Regions from separate parts of the Homo sapiens genome. Here regions 1 and 2 are each reported to be linked to region 3. Evidence: microRNA targets listed by miRTarBase, many of them from high-throughput screens and not tested one by one. Region 3 holds a microRNA gene; each other region holds the end of a gene's coding sequence.
What was found. Region 3 holds the annotated microRNA hsa-miR-4751 (AGAGGACCCGUAGCUGCUAGAAGG, at 3,398-3,421, opposite strand). A microRNA usually pairs through its seed, bases 2 to 8, with sites in the 3' UTR of a target mRNA and lowers its output. Matches are read on the target gene's strand: a 7mer-m8 pairs with bases 2 to 8, a 7mer-A1 pairs with bases 2 to 7 and ends in A, and an 8mer does both.

Region 1 (7,107 bases), not on the chromosome of region 3:
TGTTGTCATTGCTGAGGTCGATCTCGTAGTTGTTCAGTTGTGCTCTTTTTGCTGTCTTGTGAGTCTTAGCCAGTGATCCAGCTGCCCAAGGACAGGGCCTCCAGAGGGCCTAGCGCCCTCCTGGTACCAAGCGTGTGCTCCTGGCCTGTGTGACAGTGTCTTTCCCGAAGCAGTGAAATGAGAAATTCTGCAAGTGGCCACCCGGAAGATCAGTCTGTAGCTCTTGGGCCTGGATTTCTACTATGTTAGTGAGTGTAGGAATATACTGTGTCTTTAATGGATGAAAATTCAATGTATGCTGTGAATTTGTTGGTTTGAAACATTGAAATTTTTCATTAGACAATGTTTACATACCTCACCTGAAGAACCTTTGAGAGTGTATATATAAAATTTTAAAATATATTAAGTTGCTTTAAAACAATATGTATAGCTATAAAAGTTGGAGTTATTTTAACTTTGAATATGTACCAAGTCTCTTAAATATTGAAATCTTGTAGACTTCTTGTGCTTCTGTGTTTTGCTTTCCTATCAGGCCATGTAGGAAACTGTGTTCTTGTTATTGGTAGAGGGGCCCTCACTGAAATCCAAGCTTGGAAGGATGTCCTGTGTTGTTTCAGATTCTCTTGTTTGGTTTTGAAGGATGCGGTGTGGAGCCAGAGGATGTGTGGGAGGGGTTTCTCTAACACTGACTTCTATTCCATGAGCTTTTTCAAGGCGCTTATTTTATGGCAGCGTATTAAACTTCTTTGATATTCAAGTGTGTCTGTGTAGTCACTGAAGAGGGCACAGAACGCCTTGAAGCCGGGCATTCAACTTGCAGCCTAAGGCAAAATTGATGAGTTGCCAGAAGGAACCACAAAGCAATACTTCCACCAAGTGTCAGGGCTTAGAGAAACCTTGTTTGCTAATGTAAGTAATAAATCATTTTGTGAGTTCTGCCTAACTTCAGGGAAAAGAAAAGGCAATGGAGGAATCCTTGAGATTCCCATGGCAGGGTTGGAAAGGTGCCAGCATTTCATCCTGAGGGGCAGGGAGCAATGGAGGGCAAACTCCTGACCTCAGGCTAGCCACTGGGAAGTGTGCAGGCCACAGGCCAGGGCTGCCCCAGCTCTCAATGCCCTTGTTGGAGTATGGCAGAAAAAGTCCTTCGATTTGCTAGCCTCATGAGTTTTTCATTATATTCTTTCAACTCTGCTTGAAGTGGGTCAGCGTAAGGGCCCACAAGCGGCTCATCTGACTGTGCCATCACTGTGCAGAACCACATCCAGCAAAAATAACCCCACAGCTGACTGCCAGGCCACCCCTCTGAATCTGAAGTTGGAAGATTACCTCATTCCAGATTAGTTGTTTTCATTGTTAAGATAGACCTCTTTTCCTCCAGTAGTCATCCTGTAGTGGAGTAATGAAAATACTGACCCAAGAGGTGCAGACTGGCTGCCTTGGGGTGAGGGGACATCTCAAAAATTAACTCTGAGGGCTTTGGGCTTAGGGATGATAGAGATGTGTCTAGAGATGTGTCATCACCAATCTCAGGAAAACTTGGCAGCTCTAGTAATCAGGATGTCGCCCATTGGAAGTCTGGGCACTGCTTTTTGGCCTCCACCCTCCCAACCAAGCCCGGCTGTGCCCATTCCCTTGGCTGGGGATTTCCCTTTAGCAGTGAAATTTGCCACTGATTTTACTTTAACTCAGAAATAGCAAACTGGTGGCCTACAGATGTGTTTTCTTTAGCCTAGTGTTTAAAAAAATACTTCGTGAGCTTTTTTTTACATAAAGATTGAGAGTTCTGACTTTTGTAAAAAAATTAAAAAGATGAAGATTTGACAGAATTAACTCACGGTAAGAGTCAGCTGGCATGAGATTGGAAAACGTGCCTTTCAGGTCACCACAGCCCCTGACTGTCAGTTCCCATTTGTCACTGTTTCTTCACGGCAGGGGAATGGGTCTGTGTACGTGCAGCCTTATCAGAAGTGACAGCCAGGTGACTGACAGGTAACCAACTGACCTTGTGAGACGGGAGCATCCAACCCCATTGGAACGCATTTTCTCTCCTGCACACTGTTCGTTACATTTCCTCCAAAATCCCTGACTTTTTTGAAGGCACTGAAGTTATATCAAGTGGCCACTTTCAAGATGACCCATGTGCTGTTAAGGTGTGGCTTGTGTGACCATTGCCCTGGCCCAATTTTCCACAGAAACCTGTCCATGGCGCTGGCTCATGGTCCCGGCTCAGGCTTCCCTTTAGTGTCAGTGACCCTGCCCAGCCTGCCTGCCCAGGCCTGGCCTTACCCAGACATCCATCCTGAGTGAGTGAGTCCTATAAAATCGTGCTTGCAGTGTTCTCATCTGAATGGTGATGGAGCCACTGCAGACGTATGTGTGTGTGCCTGCTTTCTCCACCAATTTCTAAGAGCCACTGTGCTGGGGACAGGAAAGTGAACCTCACAGGGCATCTGAGAAGTCACACTATATAGATTGCCCCGATGGCTCCGAAACCCTTAGAGCCAAATTAAAGATGGGTGTGGCTCTGTGCACAAACTTACAGAATGTCCATGTCACGGCAATTACTTGAAGGGAGATGAGGATGAGCAGCCTCCCCAGCTCGGCCGTGCACTGACAGACCCCGGGGGGGTGTCCCCCAGCCCTCTCCCAGGACCCCCTCCTTCAGGAGGAATGGACTTCAGGAAAAGCAGGGAGTTCCAGGGACAGACATCCTACGTGTGTAGCCCCTTGGAGCCATCCCTGGATGATGGCCCATATGCGATCAGCCCAGAAGCCCTAGGAGAGAATGCCAGCAGCACCCGGCCCGCCCTTGGTGGAGAAAAAGAGACCAACAAGGCAGAGTGACTCAATGTCATGTTCACATGGAAGACAACAGACAATATCGACATAGTCTAAAACAATACTTCCAGGGCAGGTGCAGCTCCCTCATGGGCCTGTTCTAAACCAGCCTCTAGGAGTTGATCCAAACAAGACGACTACAGAAACCCCCAACAAAACGTGCCACGACCACATAGCATCTGAAAGGCAAAACAAGACGCTGGATGTTGACTTTAACATATAAAAATACTGTAACAAAATGAAATACAAATATATATTAGAATCTGTAAGTATTCTGTATAAAGAGATACTTTTGCGGTTAGGCTACCAGCAGGCAAAGAGGAGACAAAGTCCAGCCTTTTCCACTTCCTGACACCTTCACCGGGAGCCCCGGCCCTGTTGCCAGTGGTGTTGCAAGGCCACAGCTCCCTCCGGACGCACCCTGCTGTATCTCTTCATGCCTAAAATGCAGAGCGAACTAGGGGTCTTCACAAAGGGGGACAAGATGTGGAGAGAGGACTTCTCAGAGGGGTGATTTTGCAGTAGCCACCTTCCGGACTTTCAAGCGGAGTGTGAATAGGCAACGTGAGTGCTGACTCAGGTCCTTAGCAACTCGCTGGCTGATGGCCAAGTTGGAGAAAAAGTTGATCCTGGGGCACACAGCTCTCACATCATCTCATGGTGGATTCCAATCCTCAGACTGCACTGAGGTCAGCGCTGCTGTGCTAGGAGGCTGGGCCATGTGGTGGGGCCGGTCAGGGGAGCCTTAAGCTCACATGGTGCTCCCTAGGAACAAACATGCCAGCCGCTCACCTCCCAGCCCCATGGCGCCAGGTGAGGGGTGAGCATCACCTGTCTACAGGTGTCCTTTCCACCTCCTGCAGAATGAAGAGGCCTCCTGCCAGCCAGTGCCCTTCAAGCCTGGGAATTGGCTTCTCCAGGGTGGTGGGGAATGGTGGTGGCCAGGAAAGCTATCTTTCTCAGGGTTGGTGAGTCCCAGAGCACCTTTCTTCCAGGGAAGAGGCAAGCTAGCTGCCCTTGAGCTTTTCTGCCCTATCCAGCCCGGTGCAGATGCTCTGCAGGGTCCCACGGTGGCCTGGAAACTCAGAGAGGGATGCCATGTGGGCCTGGGAGAAGCCCCATGAGGCCCAGGCTGCAGTCTACTTGGGGGTGGGGGCGGGCATTGTGGCCTTGCTCAGAGCTCCAAGCAAGTAGATCCCAGCCCCCTGGTGAGGGGCAGATCCTGCCATGAGGACACCTGCCACATTGGGCAGGGCACTGCCCTCTTCCCATCACAGGGACCCCAGGACTCACAGTTGCTAGATTGAGTCCCCATGGCATGAGACATGCCAGGCACCTCTACCCCAGTTCTAGCCTTCTAATCAGCATCAAGGGCTCCCCTCACTGCCCTGGGCAGGGGACAGGGACACAATGCCACTCTGAGCCTCACCTGAACATACACCCAGCCATGCCTCCTGGTCACAGATGGAGGGAGCCAGGGCAGGGACATGCTCACCCCCGTTGCCCACCAGAACCCCCGGGGGTGTGCCCTCTTGGTGAGCCCTCTGGGGAAGGAGAGTGCAACTTTGCCTCCCTTTAGCCCATTCACAGTTTGGCCTCACAAACCATCTTTCTACATTTTCACTGTGTATGGAAGAGAAGACAACGTGGGCAGGCAATCGTATATTCAGGGCCTCTTCTTCTTCCACCACTGGCTCCTTCGTTGCCAGCAACTCCCTGGCCTGGGCCGCTGTCTGTGGCTGGAGCCCCCACTCAGCTCAACTCTTCCCGGGCATCCTGGTCATTCCTGCGATGCTCTGGGATGAGTTCACATCTGTCCATTAGGCCAGAACGTCCACAATCCCCAGCCCCGGGTTAGGCACATAAATACTTTTGATGTGATCAATGTAGATAGATAGATAGATAGATAGGTCTTCTAACTCCTCTGGCCTCCCAAGACCACAGTGGGGGAGTCTGCACTGTTCCTTTAGTCATCCCGCCCCCCACCTCTGGCCATTTTATAGCTGAAGAACCCAAGGCCCAGGTGGGGAGAAGTTTGCCCCGAGTGATAGAGCCAGCAGGGACTTCCCAATGCCTGGAGCACTGTCCCTTCCACTGCTCCCTACTGGCCTGCGGTGTGAAGGACTCTGAACCAGCTGCTCCCAGGTCAAGCACCCTGGCCCAGACCCTCACACCCAGTCCCTCTACCAATAGGTCACCGACAGCTTGTGGCTGACTGGTGGCTGGGGAAGCCCAGGACCAATACTCCTACTGTGGCCAGTGTCTGGAGGCAGATGATGTTTGTTTATCTAGAGCAAAGAACCCTCTGCCCTCTTTAGTGGGGTCTGCCACCCTGAGCAGCCCCTGTGACTGTTTCCTCCACATAAGCCCTCGCAGCTACAGTAGTCATGCTAGAACTTTAGGATTCAGAGGCCTGGTCCTAAGAACCACCTCCACCCACAGCCTCGTTCCCAAGCCGTGGCTGCAGAGCTGCCAGTCAGCCCAGGGGGCAAGGGTCCGACCCTCCCTGGCCAGCAGGAGGCGGCACCCCCGCTCCAGAGCCTGGCCTACCACCAGCAGATTCTGTAGCAGCAGAATGAACCAGGCTGGCTTCCCGGGGAGGCTGACAGTACTTCATGGTTGCCCGCAGAGGGGTAAGAGGCTTCTGGGGCCACAGACCCAGTTCCAAGCCAGCCTGGGCCACAGGCCAAAGGGAAGGGTTGGTTTGGAAGGCTGTCATTTTTCTTCTCCAGATTCAGATAGCAGGTAAGGAGGGGTGTCATCGTTCTGCACTTCTTGGCCTGACCTCACGCACACATTCACTCAACAAATATTTATTAAGCGCCTATTTGTGCAAGGCACTTCCGGAGAGGGCAGCCCGCAGCTCAGGCCTCGCCCACCCCCGCTGCCCCCAGCTATGGCGCAATTTGCTTTTAAAAGGCTGCTCTGGCACCACCCCACCCAGGAGGGCCCAGCTGCCCAGGAGCCGTCCTGTGATGACCTGCACCCCAGCCCAGCTGCTGGCGACTGTCTCCGCTGCTGCAGCGGCTGGGGCCCCTTGCCCGCCCTCACCGGCCTGTCCACGCCCAGCGCTATGCGCAGAGGGCACAGCCACACTTGGTGGGCTTTTCCACCTCCTCGGCAAAAGAGGTCCCATCGCTGCACTCAAAGGTGAACTTCCTCCGCTTCAGCCGAAGGCCCTGGCAGCAGCCCTGGCCTGGGCACGAGCCCCGGCACTCCACCCATGACAGGGGGCGCGTGGTCTGGCAGATGGCATAGCCCCTCTGGACCTGGTGAAAGTCCCGGACAGGGTCCCCCCGGCACTCGGACTCTGGATGGGACAGACACCAAGAGAAAGCCTCAGGGCACACCCATGGGTGAGCTGCTGCCTCCAGGGAGGCAGGAGGAAGAGGAGGAGGAGGGCAGCATCTGTGGGGTGGATCCTTTGGCTCTCAGACCCCACCTCTGTCCCCAGCATACTTCCGCCTCCCACTGACATGCACAAGCTTCCTCCCAGGGCCTACAGTCTGGTCCTAGCGTCAGGGCCCTCCAGGACAGACTGAACTGCTGGAGGGAGGGGGGGTCCCCATTGCTAGAGGCGTGCAAGAGAGGCTGGAGGCCCCGGGGGCAATAACATTATGAAAAGGATTCATGCTGGGGAGGGGATAGCCTAGGGGACCCTTAAGGTGCCTGAGTTCTGGGTTTCTCCAGCTTCTCCCTGCCCAGCCTTAGCAGTCCGGATTCCAGCAGAAGCCATCTTGGTCAAGCAGGCCAGGGAGGGCCTGGGAAGGAGTCCCCAACCCTCGGACTTCCTGCTGCCGCTCCCAGGTCATGAGGTGATGGGGCCAAGAGGCAGAGGTTGGGCCAGGAGCTGTTACCCTGGGTGGTCTCTTCTGCAAGGAGAGACCCCAGCCAGAAGAGGCGCATACCCTGAATAAGGGAGCTGCAGGGCAAACTGGGCCAGGAGAGATTGGGAGCAGTGCCCAGAGGGTGGAGGGACTCTGAAAGCCCCATAGTAGCCCATGGTACAGGGCTGGGAAGGGACAGAAGGGCTGCCGAGACTGGGAGGAAGAGTCAAATTGCTAAAGCAATTTGTGGGGGACCCTGGGGAGGGCACGTCAGGAGGGGGGCCCCTGACCTTGCTCACACAGCTCGCCCGAAAAGCCGGGGTCACACACACAGTGTGCCCCCTTGGTGCCTGAGGCCTGGCAGTGGCCATGCAGGCACTGCAGGCCTCTGCAGGGCTCTGCCAGGGCCCCGGCCTGGTTGCACAGTGCCCCCGAGTAC
Region 2 (7,107 bases), not on the chromosome of region 3:
CCCCCGAGGGTGCCCCTTCACCATCAAGCTCAGCGCCCGGAAGTAAGTGCCCCTCCCTGGGCACCTCTGCCTCCCTGGGGGCTGCTTCTCAGGGCTCTGGCTGAGGCCTCCCCGCATCCCGCCCTGGCACAGGGACCACGAGGGCAGCTGTGACTACAGGCCTGTGCGGTGTCCCAACAACCCCAGCTGCCCCCCGCTGCTCAGGATGAACCTGGAGGCCCACCTCAAGGAGTGCGAGCACATCAAATGCCCCCACTCCAAGTACGGGTGAGTGGGGGGCGGGCGGGGGTGGGCCGGGGTGGGCGCAGGCCCTCCACAGGCTCCGCTGAGAGCTGCCCGCTTGCTGGTCCCGGGGAGGTAGGCCGGAGCTGGGGCCACACCGGGGTCTGTAATCCTCTCTGAGGCCCAAGGCCCTGGAAACCCAGAGGGGGAGCCGAGGGCGTCCAGGAAGGCGGGCGTGGACGCTCCCGCAGCCGGCCCAGCATGGGCGGATTTGAGCAAATGCTGGGGTTGAGAGCTTTGGAGAGGGAGGTGGGGGTGGGAGGAGAGGCAGGAGCCCAGTTCTTCAGGGCAGGGAGGTGGGCAGGGAGGCTGCCAAGCAGCGTGGGTTTTATCCTCAGGAAGGGAGGACCCCTTGAAGAGCTCTGCGGGGGTGACGTGATGGGATCTCACTTGTGAAGCAGACTGGGGGTAGCTGGATGGGGAGGAGGGGCAGGACGGCAGGTGTGGGTGGGGGCAGCTGGACCTGGGGTGCAGCGGCCACAGGGCTGGAGCATTTGAGGGGGATTCTTGGGGATGGGGAGGCACCGGCAGGGACCCGCCAGGCAGGCAGCTGTCCTGTCCCCGCAGGTGCACGTTCATCGGGAACCAGGACACTTACGAGACCCACCTGGAGACTTGCCGCTTCGAGGGCCTGAAGGAGTTTCTGCAGCAGACGGATGACCGCTTCCACGAGATGCACGTGGCTCTGGCCCAGAAGGACCAGGAGATCGCCTTCCTGCGCTCCATGCTGGGAAAGCTCTCGGAGAAGATCGACCAGCTAGAGAAGAGCCTGGAGCTCAAGTTTGGTGAGGGTGGGCACCGGGGCAGGCAGGGGCCTGGCCACTGCTCCGGGCACCAGTGACACCCCCTCTCCTCCTGCTACTCAGACGTCCTGGACGAAAACCAGAGCAAGCTCAGCGAGGACCTCATGGAGTTCCGGCGGGACGCATCCATGTTAAATGTGAGCGGGCGGGGCTGGAGGGGCTGGGTTGTGAGACCCGGGGAGGCCGGCGGCCCCGGCAGGGAGGCCTCCCCTGGCCTTGCCTACACTAGTCAAGATCAGGGGTCTTGTGTGTGGCAGGGGCTGCTGTCACCCCTGCCCACCCCTGGCCCAGGGCAGCAGGGGCAGAGAGGCTGCACTGGCCCCACAGCAGCCCTGCCCACCTGCCCTCTGCCCTGCCCTTGGCCCTGCAGGACGAGCTGTCCCACATCAACGCGCGGCTGAACATGGGCATCCTAGGCTGTGAGTATGGACCCGCCGTGGCTCCCGCCCACCCTCCCCCCCGGGCCCCAACTGGGCCTTCACCCACTGCTCCCATCTCTGCAGCCTACGACCCTCAGCAGATCTTCAAGTGCAAAGGGACCTTTGTGGGCCACCAGGGCCCTGTGTGGTGTCTCTGCGTCTACTCCATGGGTGACCTGCTCTTCAGTGGCTCCTCTGACAAGACCATCAAGGTGGGCAGGGTCCTACCTCAGTCTCTGCAGCCTGGCTGGGCTGGGCACTGCCACATGCCTGGCACTGCCAGCCTGCCTATGGGTGGGACCTTCTGGGCAGGGCCCTCTCCCATGGGCGGGGCTCCCTCACTCATTCCTGTCATGCTGCCCCTTGACACTGGGCTGACCTTGCTGGGACCCACTGTGGCCCTGGTCTCTGCAGGTGTGGGACACATGTACCACCTACAAGTGTCAGAAGACACTGGAGGGCCATGATGGCATCGTGCTGGCTCTCTGCATCCAGGGGTGAGTCCAGGCACATGTGTGATCAGTGATTCCCAGGACAGGAGACGTGGCGCTGCCACCCCGTGGGCCGTGAGCCATGAGCTCGAGCCTGTGTAGCTATGTGTGTGCCCCACCTATAGGGCACCCTCCACCCGGAGCAGCACTGTTTCCTGGGTAGCAGTGTGTGGGCCCTTGTGTGGCCTACACCATCTCCAAAGTTGTGTGTTCCCAATACCTGGCGCAGCCAGCCTCCCAGCAGAACCTTGTCCTGGCCCAGGTGCACCTTGCGCAACCAGAAGATAGGGGGGACCTTAGGGGGTGAAGGCAGGAGCTCAGCTCTCCCCTGCCTGCAGCCAAAGCCCAGGGCATAGAGACTACGGAGCAACTACCTTGGCCACTTTCTTGCCTCCAGGTGGCCCGCCTGCCTCCTGTCTCCTATCGTGAGGCTTTGTGGGAGCGAGCAAGTAAGCGTGTGCGTGAGAGATGCTCGCTTTCAGGAGGCGGCAGCTTGACTGCCAGCAGCCGGCCCTGGGACTGACTCAGGGCTGACGGGTGGGTAATTACCTCCCAGCTCGCTGTCAAATGCTTTCCAGGCAGGCATCAGGGGCTGGCCCGCCCCTTCCAAGGTTCCCATGTGGAGACTGGAAAATAGGCTGACGCTTAAGGACACAGCAGTGGCCTTGGCCCTGGGCCATGCTGCTGGTTCCTGATGGCTGGCATGGACCTCGGGCCCTGCCAGGGCGGTGTCAGCATGGACACAGCTTCTCCCACCTTGACACATTGTCTCTGCTTCCCCAGGTGCAAACTCTACAGCGGCTCTGCAGACTGCACCATCATTGTGAGTGGGGCCTACAGGCGGGTGGGCAGGAGGCGGCCCAGGCCCGCCCCAGTCTGTAGGTGCCCCAGGGACGTGTTTCTCCCCGTCTGGGCTCCAGACTCCAGGTGGCAGGGCTTGGTGCCCTGAGGCTGCCGGTCCTTCCCCAATCAGGTGTGGGACATCCAGAACCTGCAGAAGGTGAACACCATCCGGGCCCATGACAACCCGGTGTGCACGCTGGTCTCCTCACACAACGTGCTCTTCAGCGGCTCCCTGAAGGCCATCAAGGTACGGGTGGAGGCTGTGCCTACGTGTGTGTCACTGAGGCGTCCCTTGCCCGCCCAGCCCACAGTTGCAGCAATCCCTGCAGGTCTGGGACATCGTGGGCACTGAGCTGAAGTTGAAGAAGGAGCTCACAGGCCTCAACCACTGGGTGCGGGCCCTGGTGGCTGCCCAGAGCTACCTGTACAGCGGCTCCTACCAGACAATCAAGGTGCGCTTGGGCACACCTGGTGGCCACAGGGCCTTGCCTCCTACCAGCACTTCCCAGGCCAGCACCTGGGGCTCCATCTGCCCTGTTCCTACCTTCGCACATCCCCTGGCTGGGTGGGTGGGCTGCCCAGCAGTGCTGAAGCCCTGGGGGTGCGGGGGCCCTGGGGGTGAAGCACCTGGCCTGGGACCAACTGGCCCACGATTACTCATAGATCTGGGACATCCGAACCCTTGACTGCATCCACGTCCTGCAGACGTCTGGTGGCAGCGTCTACTCCATTGCTGTGACAAATCACCACATTGTCTGTGGCACCTACGAGAACCTCATCCACGTAAGGCCTGGGCATCTGGGTGCAAGGCCAGACTGTGGCCCCGTCTCCCCCGCCTTGCTCAGTGTCTTTGACCTGCCTGTGCCCACCCCTCCCAGGTGTGGGACATTGAGTCCAAGGAGCAGGTGCGGACCCTCACGGGCCACGTGGGCACCGTGTATGCCCTGGCGGTCATCTCGACGCCAGACCAGACCAAAGTCTTCAGTGCATCCTACGACCGGTCCCTCAGGGTGCGTGCTGGCCCAGCGGTGGCAGGAGGCTCAGAGGGCTGGCAGCTGAGCTCCGGCGGGCCCTCACGTCCCATGTGCCCCCAGGTCTGGAGTATGGACAACATGATCTGCACGCAGACCCTGCTGCGTCACCAGGGCAGTGTCACCGCGCTGGCTGTGTCCCGGGGCCGACTCTTCTCAGGGGCTGTGGATAGCACTGTGAAGGTCAGTGCCCGTGGCTCAGGCCATTCAAAGGGGCTGCACAGGATGGAGCGGGGGTGGGGACGAGGAGCTGGCAGCCCCAGCACAAAGTGGTGGAGGGCAGGTACGTGTGGCAGGTGTGGCTGGGGCAGGGCAGCCGGCCGCAGGACATCCTGGTGAAGCAGCCCTTTCTCTGCAGGTTTGGACTTGCTAACAGGATCCAGGCCAGGCTGTGGTTTCCCCTGAACCAGCCCTGGACCTTTCTGAGCCAGGCTGGCCACATGGGGTGGTCTCGGGGTTTCTGCCTGCCCCGTGGGCATAGGTGGACAGGCTCTGGCAGCCGGGCAGTGCCCTCCCCGTCCCATGCTCGGCGAGCCTCCCTCTACTCGGCACTGTCCTTGCTGCCCAGCCCCTCTCTGGGTGCCAGGTACGACGCTTGCCCCGGCCCACCCTCCATCCCCACCCTCCATCCCCACCCTAGATGGAGCGAGGGCCTTTTTACTCACCTTTTCTACCGTTTTTAGACTGTATGTAGATTTGGTTACCTCCTGGTTGAAATAAATGCTCCACAGACTGTGGCTGTGAGTGGGGACAGCTCCTCGGGACAAGGGGGCTGTGTGTGGCCTTGAGGTTGGTGTGCACAGGCACTGGCTGCTGTGAGTGGGGGGGCATGGGGCAGTTTCCTTTGGTGGACCCCAGGACTTCGGCCCACTCCGGGGCCTCCCCTCCCTGCTAGGAGGCAACTCGTCACACCCAAGCTGCTGGCCTCCAGTCCCATCTCCCCCAACACATGTGCCCCCAAAAAGTGAGCCAGGCACCTCTGTTTCCTGCTGTTTATTGACAGCCGACGGCAGCGCCTTGCCCAGACCTCCCCTGCCCACCTGCTGGAGCCCAGCCTGTGCCGCCCTCTGAGGAGAGGCCTGGGGGGACAGCTGGGCACGTCCACTCGCAGGGAAACACGGGGTGAGACAGCAGGAAGGGGCCCTGCACGCCGGGACGCCACCTCCGCCAGCCGCCTCCACCCGCCCCACACCACAATCGCTGGTTTTCGGCATTTTTTAAATTTTTTTTTTAAGAAACGTCAAAGTTGTGCCCAACACTGTGGATCAGCAAACACGATAGAGGAGACCAGTCAGTACTTCTTGGAGGGGGCAGGAGGAGAGAGGAAAAGGGAGGGCGAGAATGACCACACAACACAGCCTTGGACCATGAGCAGAAGCGTCCGTGGGAACTCCACTGGGGTGGATGGGCTGCCTGCACAGCCCCTGGAGAGGGGGCCAGGCACACCCTCAGAGGAGCTGCAAGCCCGTGGCCTGGCCTGCTACATGCCCTGCTTCCACGTGGCTGCCACGCTGACACACCCACATTCACCAAACCCACCCGCGCCCTGGGACGCAGCCACGCCAGGAGGAGGACACGGCCGCCGAGAGCAAGGCACAACCTCGAGTTCTTGGGGCGCAGAGAACTTAGGAGAGAAGCACGGAGGAGCCCCCGGCAGAGCACCCGCCCCCGGGCCCCAGCCTTCCACCTGTGCTAGCAGCCTGGGGCCTCCACTCTGGCCGGAGGAAGGACCGCAGGCAGACAGCCTGGGCCTCTAACAGCTTTTGTCCGGAGCTAGACTTCGTGTCCTTTCAGTTGGTAAATGGTTTTCTATAGAATCAATAATATTTCTTTCTTTAAATATATATTTGTTAAAGTTATACCTTTTTGTTTCTCTGGGGAAATCCGCCTCAGCTCATTCCCAATAAATTAATACTCTTGATAGCTTATATTCTGGGGGTGCGGTGGGGCAGGGGGGCCCTGACCTTGGTCCCCTGTCCCTTGTGCTGCGCCCGAGCGGCTGGCCGGGCGTCCCGATGGGCAGTTCTGTGCTGGGCCCGGGCCTGTGCGCTGCCCCATCCCTGGTCCCGGGGCGCCCTCCCCTCCCGCGCGGGCAGGAGGCCCAGCAGGTATTGCACGGGGAGCAGCAGGTGGGGAGGACCCGCGGGCGCAGGGTCTGCCTAGAGCCCTTGGAGCCCCCGGCCAGGCGGTCCCCGGTGGGCGCCCCGGCCCGGGTCCAGGGGCCGGAGTTGTGCTTCTGCAGGGCCCTGCCCGGCCGCTCGCGCCGCGCCCAGACGCGCCCATCCTGAGGTATAGGTCAGTGTGCGGGGAGGGCCCGGGCGGCGCGGGAGGGCCCGGCCAGGCGGCGTTCACTCCAGCATGGCATCCAGCTGGTCGGCCAGGTCGTCGAACATGCTGCCGATGTCGTCCAGGATGCTGCCAGTGCTCTTTTCCGCCGCCGAGTCGCTGCGGGGCGCGGGGCAAGGGGCGTGAGTGGGCGGGGCGGGTCTGGCCACGCCCACCCCGACCAGGACACGCCCACGTCCCGCATCTCCGTCGGCTTCCGCCTACCGCACGACGACCTCGGCGGAGCCCCGCTCACGGCACGCCCATCTCTGCCGAGCCCCGCCCATCTCTGCCGAGCCCCGCCCATCTCTGCCGAGCCCCGCCCATCTCTGCCGAGCCCCGCCCTCCGCCCGCCAGGCCCCGCCCCGCACCTACCGCGGGCCCTGCGCGTCCTCCTGCCGGATCTTCTCCTCCACCGCCTGCAGCGCCGCGGCCAGGCACGCGCTTGTCTCCTCCAGTTTCTGCCGGGCGCTGTCCCCTGGCGAGGCGCCTTCGGGCGGGGCGGGGGGCGCGGCGGCGGCGGCGGCGGCGGCGGCGGCGGCTCGCGGGGGCTTGGCGGGCACGTGCAGCGCGGGCGCGCCGGGGGACGGGGGCTTGGCGGGGCTGGCGCCCAGCGAGGGCGGCGTACCGGGCGGCTTGGCGAGGGCGGCGGGCGGCTGTCGCGCGGGCGAGGGTGCGGGTGAAGGGCCGGCGCTGCCCGAAGGCAGCCCCGCGACCGCCTTGACGGGCTTGGGCGCTGTGGGCGGCGGCGGCGGCTTGGGAGACACGGGCGGTGGCGTGCCGTGGGCGCGCTTCACCTCTGCGGGGAGGACCACGCTGGCACCGAGCGGGCACGAGTTCCGCCGCCGCGCCCCCTGCCCCAGCCTCCCGCGGCTTCCTCCCCAGCGGACCGGGAAAGACCCTGCTCACCTTG
Region 3 (7,112 bases):
CCTGGCAGTGAGGAGAGTAAGTTAGGTTAAACAAGCATTTTGTTTCAATTGATCACTGGGGACAAAACAGTTCAGTTAATCATGTACGAGACAACGAAATGGGAATTTGGAGGGTCTATGTCTGCCCTTGTCTTAGACAAGGGGTTCATCCTCAAGTCTTATCTAAGTCATATACGGAAGGGTGGTTCTTCTCAGTAAGCCATCTCCTGGAATGCAAAAAAGCGGGAGGATTTCTTTTTTGTTGTTAGTTTTTTTTAACTTTTTGTAGAGACAGGGTCGTGCTATGTTGCCCAGGTTGTTCTCAAGCTCCTGGGCTCAAACGATCCTCCCACTTTGGCCTCCCAAAGTGTAGGGATTACAGGGGTCAGCCACTACACCTGGGCCGGAAAAGTGGGGGGATTTCTTCACTGTCGCTGTTGTCCACACACGCAAGGCTCCGGTAAAATTCCGCACTGTTGCAAAGAAAGATGCTTTGCTGCTGGGTGGAGAACTTTTTTTTTCTTTTTTCTTTTATTTATGTATTTATTTATTATTATTTTTTGAGACAGTCTTGCTCTGTTGCCCAGGCTGGAGTGCAGTGGCACGATCTCGGCTCAATGCAACCTCTGCCTCCTGAGTTCAAGCAATTCTCCTGCCTCAGCCTCCTGAGTAGCTGGGACCACAAGTGTGCACCACCATGCCCAGCTAATTTTTGTATTTTTCATAGAGACGGGGTTTCACCATGTTGGCCAGGATGGTCTCCATTGCTTGACCTCGTGATCCACCCACCTCAGCCTCCCAAAGTGCTGGGATTACAGGCATGAGCCACTGTGCCCAGTCTTTTTTTTTTTTTTTTTAACAGGTTCTTGCTTTGTCACCCAGGCTGGAGTGCAATGGCACAAACATGGCTCACTGCAGCCTCAACCTTTGGGTTCAAGCAATCCCCCCGCCTCAGCCTCCTGAGTACCTGGAACTACAGACTACAGGTTCATGCCACCACGCCCAGCTAATTTTCTTTCTTTTCTTTTTCTTTTCTTTTTTTTTTTTTTTTGAGACAGAGCCTTGCTCTGTTGCCCAGGCTGGAGTGTAATGGTGTGATCTCAGCTCACTGCAACCTCTGCCTCCTGGGTTCAAGCCATTCTCCTGCCTCAGCCTCCCAGGTAGCTGGGACTACAGGCATGCGCCACCATGCCTGGCTAATTTTTTTTGTATTTTTAGTAGATGAGGTTTCACCATGCTGGCCAGGCTGGTCTTGAACTCCTGACCTCAAATGATTCGCCCGCCTCGGCCTCCCAAAGTGCTGGGATTACAGACGTTGAGCCAAGGCGCCCGGCCCCACCTAATTTTTTTTTTGTAGAGACAGCATCTTGCTATGTTGCCAAGGCTGGTCCCCAACTTCTGGCCTCAAGCGATCCTCCTGCCTCAGCCTCCCAAGTATGTAGGACTACAGGTGCACACCACCTCACCCACTAATTTTTTTTCTTTTTTTTTTTTTGAGATGGAGTTCCACTCTTGTTGCTGAGGCTGGAATGCAATGGTGCGATCTCAGCTCACTGCAACCTCCGCCTCCCAGGTTTAGGGGATTCTCCTGCCTGAGCCTCCCAAGTAGCTGGGATTACAGGCGCCCACCACCATGCCTGGCTAATTTTGTATTTTTAGTAGAAACAGGGTTTCACCATGTTAGTCAGGCTGGTCTCGAACTCCTGACCTCAGGTGATCCACCCACCTTGGCCTCCCAAAGTGCTGGGATTACAAGCGTAAGCCACAGCACCCAGCCATTTTCTTAAAAATTATTTTTTGTAGAGATGAGGTCTCATTATGTTATCCAGGCTGATTTCCACCTTCTGGGCTCAAGCAATTCACCTGGCAAAGCCTCCCAAAGTGCTGGGATTGCAGGCGTGAGCCACTGCACCCACCCTGTTATCTTTATTACTGTCTTTTTCTTTTTTTTTTGAGATGGAGTATTGCTCTGTCGCCCAGGCTGGAGTGCAGTGGCGCAATCTAGGCTCACTGCAAGCTCTGCCTCCTAGGTTGAAGTGATTCTCCTGCCTCAGCCTCCCGAGTAGCTGGGACCACAGGCGCCCGCCACCACACCCGGCTAATTTTTCATATTTTTAGTAAAGACAGGGTTTCACCGTGTTAGCCAGGATGGTCTCAATCTCCTGACCTCGTGATCTGCCCACCTCAGCCTCCCAAAGTGCTGGGATTACAGGCGTGAGTCACCACGCCCGGCCCTCCCCACCTCCCCCCCCCTTTTTTTTTTTTTTTTTTTTTGAGATAGCGTTTCAATCTTGTTTCCCAGACTGGAGTGCAATAGAACAATCTTGGCTCACTGCAACCTCCGTCTCCTTGGCTCAAGCGAGTCTCCTGCCTCAGCCTCCCAAGTTGCCGGGATTACAGGCACACGCCACCACACCCAGCTAATTTTGTATTTTCAGTAGAGATGGGGTTTCACCTTGTTGGTCAGGCTGGTCCTGAACTCCTGACCTCAGGTGATCTGCCCGCCTCAGCCTCTCAAAGTGCTGAGATTACAAGGCCGCCTCTCCCCAGCTGCTTCTCTCAAAGACAAGATGCACAAGCCAGAGGAAATGTTTCGTTTTATTTTTGCTCATAACCTCCCAAAAAAATCAGTACCCCGCCATCCCTCACCCAGACACAGCCCCTCTCCAACACCTTCACGAAACACTGATTTTTTTTCTTAGAGCTAAAATGAACACCCAGTCACCAACTACAGCCCTGCCCTGCCCCTCCTCCCACTGGCCTGCTCATCTTCCCGCACTGCAAACCTGGCCGCCTTTAGCCTCCCTCCCTTAGCGTAGTGTCCCAAGGTCACCTAGCCTGCTTTTTGCCTGTAGGATATGGGTCCCCTTCTCAAAGCCCGCCCTGACTTACTTCCTCATTTGCATAGTCCTTCAGCTCTATCCTGTCGCCACTCCACCCACCCCAGACAACCACCTGTAAGAAACCAGGTTTGAAATTCAAGAGACCAGGTTTCCAAGCTCCCAGCTGCTTCCCTGTGGGCCTCGGTGCCTCGGCTGTTATGTGACGGGCATAGACATTGACTAAGGCCAAACATTTCATGATTTGGACGAGAAAGGAGGGAAGGAGATCCAGAAATACGCAAGAGAGGTGATAAGCAGAGACAGAGGATAAAAGGATAAGAGTAGAGAGGAGTTGGGTGGTTTGGTGGGGAAGAAGGGTTGATTTTTTTTTTTTAATAGAGACAGGGTCTTACTATGTTGCCCAGGCTGGTATTGACCTCCTGGCCTCAAACGATCCTCCTGCCTTGGCCTCCCAAAGTGCTGGGATTACAAGCATAAGCCACTGCACCCGGCCGAGAGGGGTTTGGAATGAAGGTAGAGGCAGGGGGATGAAGGCGCCAGAGCTGAAGACCAGCCCCCAGAAGCCACACCCCTGCCCTTCTAGCAGCTACGGGTCCTCTGGCTCCGGGCCTTGTAAACCTCGATGAGCAGGTCCTTGACGTACTGGATCTCGCGCTCCACGGACTCTGCCCGTTCCTTCAGCTCGCGATTCCGTGCCTCCAGCCCCTGGCACTCGCCCTCCAGGGCCTCACCCTCTGCCCGCTTCCGCTGGCGGTACCTCAGAGCCGCCGACTTGTTCTGGTCTCTCTTCTTTTGCTTGCGGTCCCCTCGGGTGGTGGCAGGATGTGGGTAGGGGGCCAGGCGAGAAGGTTGAGGTGGAGAAGGAGGAGGGGGCTGCTGTGGCGGGGGCAGAGGCGGCATCCCCACTTCCTCCTGCCCGGCCTCGTTGCGGCAGTAGATGGCCAGCAAGTCCAGAGTATCCAAGACAGGGGGCTGGGGGAGGTCAAAGGAGGGGAGGGACAGGGGGAGGGAGGGGGCTGGTGGTAGTGGTGGTGGTGGTAGTGGCGGCGGGGAGGGTGGTGGGAGGGGCGGGGCATCTAGGAAGAAGTCTTCCATCTGTTCCAGCTCCTTCTTGAGGAGGGAGGCCATAGCTTCCAGGTCAGGTGGGGTTGGGGAAGGTTGGGGGAGGGTGCCGGGGGGTAAGGGAGGCTCCAGAGGGAGGAGAGCTGTGAAATCAACTCGCTCAGTCATCCAGTCAGAGAAGCCATCACCTGGGATTAAAGTGGGGAGGGACACAAAATTCCCTGAGTTGCTGGTCTTCTGCGTAGTTGGGTGCTGACTCACGTCTCATTCAGGTGCATCTGTCCCATTCATTCAGTAAAACAACTAACCACTGAATCATCAAACCAGTCAATAAACCAACAAACCAGTGAAGAAACCAATAAACCAGTCAACGAACCAACCAACAATCAACCATCTAACCACCCAGTCAACCAACCAACCAACCAACCAACCAATGAACTAGTCGACCAATCAATCAGGGAATCGGTCAACCAACCAAATAAATCAGTCAACCAACCAATCAACCCATTAATCAACCAATGAACCAGTTAACCAAAACCCAACAAATTAGCCAATGAAAGAATCAGTCTTAACCCATAAGAGGGTCCAGGAGAAAAAAAAAATTAAAAAAGAAAAAAAGAACCAGCCAACCAACCAATGACTCAAGCAACAGTCAACCAAGCATTTCTTCAACCATTCCAACATCTCCTTTACCGAGTACTCTGTATCTGTGGTGTCTCTATTCTCTCTTTTTAAAAGGCAAACTAGATCACATTACACACACAGATACACACGCACATATGCCTTGTTTCATCTTTACTCATTAATTATTGAAAACCCACTATGTGCCAAGCATTTGGGATACAGTAATGAATGAAATGATTCCTGCCTCCTGAGGGCTTCTGCATATACAGTTCCCTCCAACTAAAATGCTCTTCCCTTGGGTGTTTTCCTCATTCCTTCCCTACTTTTTTTTTATTTTAAGGGATAGGGTTTCACTCTGTTGCCCAGGCTGCAGTGCAGTGGCATCATCTTGGCTCACTGCAGCCTAGACCTCCCAGGCTCAAGCGATCCTCCCACCTCAGCCTCCCAAGTAGCTGTGACTACAAGCGTGAGCCACCATGCCTGGCTAATTTTTTTTTTCCTATAGATATGAGGTCTCGCTATGTTGCCCACGTCCTGAACTCCTGGACTAAAGCAATTCTCCCCGCTTGGCCTCCCAAAGTGCTGGGATTACAGGCCATCATGCCTGGCTTCCTTCCCATCATTTATGCCTCAGTCAACATGTTACCTACTTGGAGAAGGTTTTCTGGCTACCCATTCTATATTAGGTCCCCTTTGTCATTTTGTAGCTCAGCTGCTAGGTGTTTTTGACTTATTCCAATACACTCTCATTTAATTTATCTCTGGTCTACTCCCCACAGTGTGAGCTGCTGGAAGGCACAGACCATGTTCTTCTTGTTCCCAGCCGTATCCTCAGCACCTAAAACAGTGCCTGGCACATTGTAGGCACTCAATATTTATTGAATACATGGATGAGTTCTTCCTCCCCCATCTTCCCCTGCCCTCCACTCCCCAGCTCCACCTTCCACCTGCCCTTACCTGCCAGGGGCTCTCCCCCCACTGGAAGCCCGCCCTCCAGGGCTCCCCCAAGGACCTCATAGGGAGCCAGGGGGGCAGGGGCCGGGGGGAGTTTCCCATAGTCTACGAGCCATCCCAGCCCACTAGCTGGGAGCAGGGCCCTGTCCAGCTCCAGCCCCAGGGTCGCCAGGAGTGACATGGCTGTAGCACAGGTGCTGGGCACTGATGGCAACAGGAGAGGCTGCACCAGCAGCTGGCACGAGGCTCTGGAGGATGCTCAGGTGGGCGAAGACAGGCACCAAGGCGAAAGTGGAAGACCTACACGCGTGAGACAAGAGTGGGTGTGGTCAGGACAGCGTCATCCACCGGCCAAAATCAAGGGGAAGCCAAGCCACACCCCCAGGCACGTCCATGAGGCTCCTCCCTCCCCCTTCCAACCACCGTTTAGAACACTAAGCCTCAGCCTCTCCGAATTCTAAATTTGCCCTTTCTTTACCCAAATCTCTGAGCCCCACCCACTCCCAAGGGAATTTCTTTAGGTCCTAAAGTAGGACCGATGCCCCACCCCTTCCCCCAATACAGAAAAAAAAAACCTAAAGGTCTCCCAGGGGAATTACCTTAGGCCCCTCCCATCCACCTCAGAATATTTCGCCTCAAGGAAAAACTCAATCCCAGGGACATTTTCTTCCAGCCACGCCCCTTCCTCTAAAATATTTCCTTTTGGCCCCACTGCCTTCCTAGCTTCCATCCCAAACCAGTTCCCAGGGGAACTGCCCCAGGCCGCAGCCCTTCAGCAATGTTATCCACTCAAATCCCACTCCTCGCTCTGCCGCTGCCCCTCCAAGCCCCGCCCCTCATTGTTTATTTAGCTCCGCCCCTCCCCCGATTCCCCAGAGGCCCCGCCTCTTTGTCACATCGAAACCCCACCCCTCAACTAACGGTTGGTTTAGCCCCGCCCCTTCTCACAATGTGCTTCCGAAATCCCACCCATCGTGACGACAGTGGTTCTATCCCCACCCACTTAGAGGGTTGCCTCTGGGTCCCGCCTTCTGCCCTGTCAATCTAAGCCAGTCCCCGCCTCAGCAGGTGCCTGGTTTAAAAGGAAGGAAGCTGGGCTGTGAGCCAGAGCAACGTGGGGCAGGGAGGGTGGAGGAGGGTAGAGGGGGCACGCGGAGAACGGCTACCCGAACGCCACCCGTCCACACGCGGCTCTGCGCCGAGGGCCAAGGCGCATGCTACGTCGCCCGAGCGGTCCAATTGCCTTTACACCTCCGCCCTCTTGGGGATCAATGCGCATGTGCGGCCATTCAGGGTCCGCAGCTCTTTCACTACGGGGCACTGGTGGGCTACTGCGCAGGAACAACCAAGCACGAAGAATCGTTTAGAAAAAAAAAAAACACACCCTCCCCTGGAGTGCTCAGGCCCAGCTGCACGCGGGCTGACAAACATCGAGTCTAGAACTCTCCCACCCGGCCCCGGGCCCAGTGCGCATGCGCAGCCGCGCGCCTTCGGCCCACCGTACTACTTCTGCGCCTGCGCGACCGTGATTCCCCGCTCGCGACTCCCCACCCCCCAGGGCTCCCTAAAGAGGGCCACGAGCTGCGAAAGGGCGGGAAAGGCAGTTGGAGAAGAGGTAAGCGGTTACTCACTCCATGGCTGCAGCAAGGA

Region 1: the mRNA of SLIT1 is a reported target of hsa-miR-4751. Seed matches in the 3' UTR shown: 7mer-A1 at 4,070-4,076.
Region 2: the mRNA of CASKIN1 is a reported target of hsa-miR-4751. Seed matches in the 3' UTR shown: 7mer-m8 at 6,004-6,010.

The regions. Positions count from the first base shown.
Region 1 is chr10:96,995,200-97,002,306 of GRCh38, forward strand. It overlaps SLIT1 (slit guidance ligand 1), which reads right to left. Exons shown (of 37, transcript NM_003061.3): 36 at 6,959-7,107; 37 at 2,839-6,151. The coding sequence ends at 5,913. LCOR (ligand dependent nuclear receptor corepressor) reads left to right here. Exons shown (of 8, transcript NM_001346516.2): 8 at 1-757. Among named protein-coding and RNA genes, the nearest start is that of SLIT1-AS1, 100 kb to the right of the region's middle. RefSeq lists an enhancer at 6,746-7,107.
Region 2 is chr16:2,172,333-2,179,439 of GRCh38, forward strand. It overlaps CASKIN1 (CASK interacting protein 1), which reads right to left. Exons shown (of 20, transcript NM_020764.4): 19 at 6,570-6,993; 20 at 4,848-6,314. The coding sequence ends at 6,218. It overlaps TRAF7 (TNF receptor associated factor 7), which reads left to right. Exons shown (of 21, transcript NM_032271.3): 8 at 1-42; 9 at 133-267; 10 at 850-1,067; 11 at 1,149-1,222; 12 at 1,456-1,504; 13 at 1,589-1,716; 14 at 1,919-2,001; 15 at 2,779-2,818; 16 at 2,969-3,085; 17 at 3,168-3,290; 18 at 3,502-3,621; 19 at 3,717-3,848; 20 at 3,933-4,052; 21 at 4,228-5,797. The coding sequence ends at 4,242. Among named protein-coding and RNA genes, the nearest start is that of TRAF7, 20 kb to the left of the region's middle. RefSeq lists an enhancer at 5,496-5,997.
Region 3 is chr19:49,929,382-49,936,493 of GRCh38, reverse strand. MIR4751 (microRNA 4751) reads right to left here and starts at 3,430; the gene lies at 3,357-3,430. It overlaps NUP62 (nucleoporin 62), which reads left to right and starts at 6,990. Exons shown (of 3, transcript NM_016553.5): 1 at 6,990-7,112. ATF5 (activating transcription factor 5) reads right to left here. Exons shown (of 3, transcript NM_001193646.2): 1 at 7,094-7,112; 2 at 5,466-5,762; 3 at 2,559-4,072. The coding sequence starts at 5,643. The coding sequence ends at 3,402. It also overlaps a transcript of IL4I1 not described here. RefSeq lists a silencer at 6,500-6,549.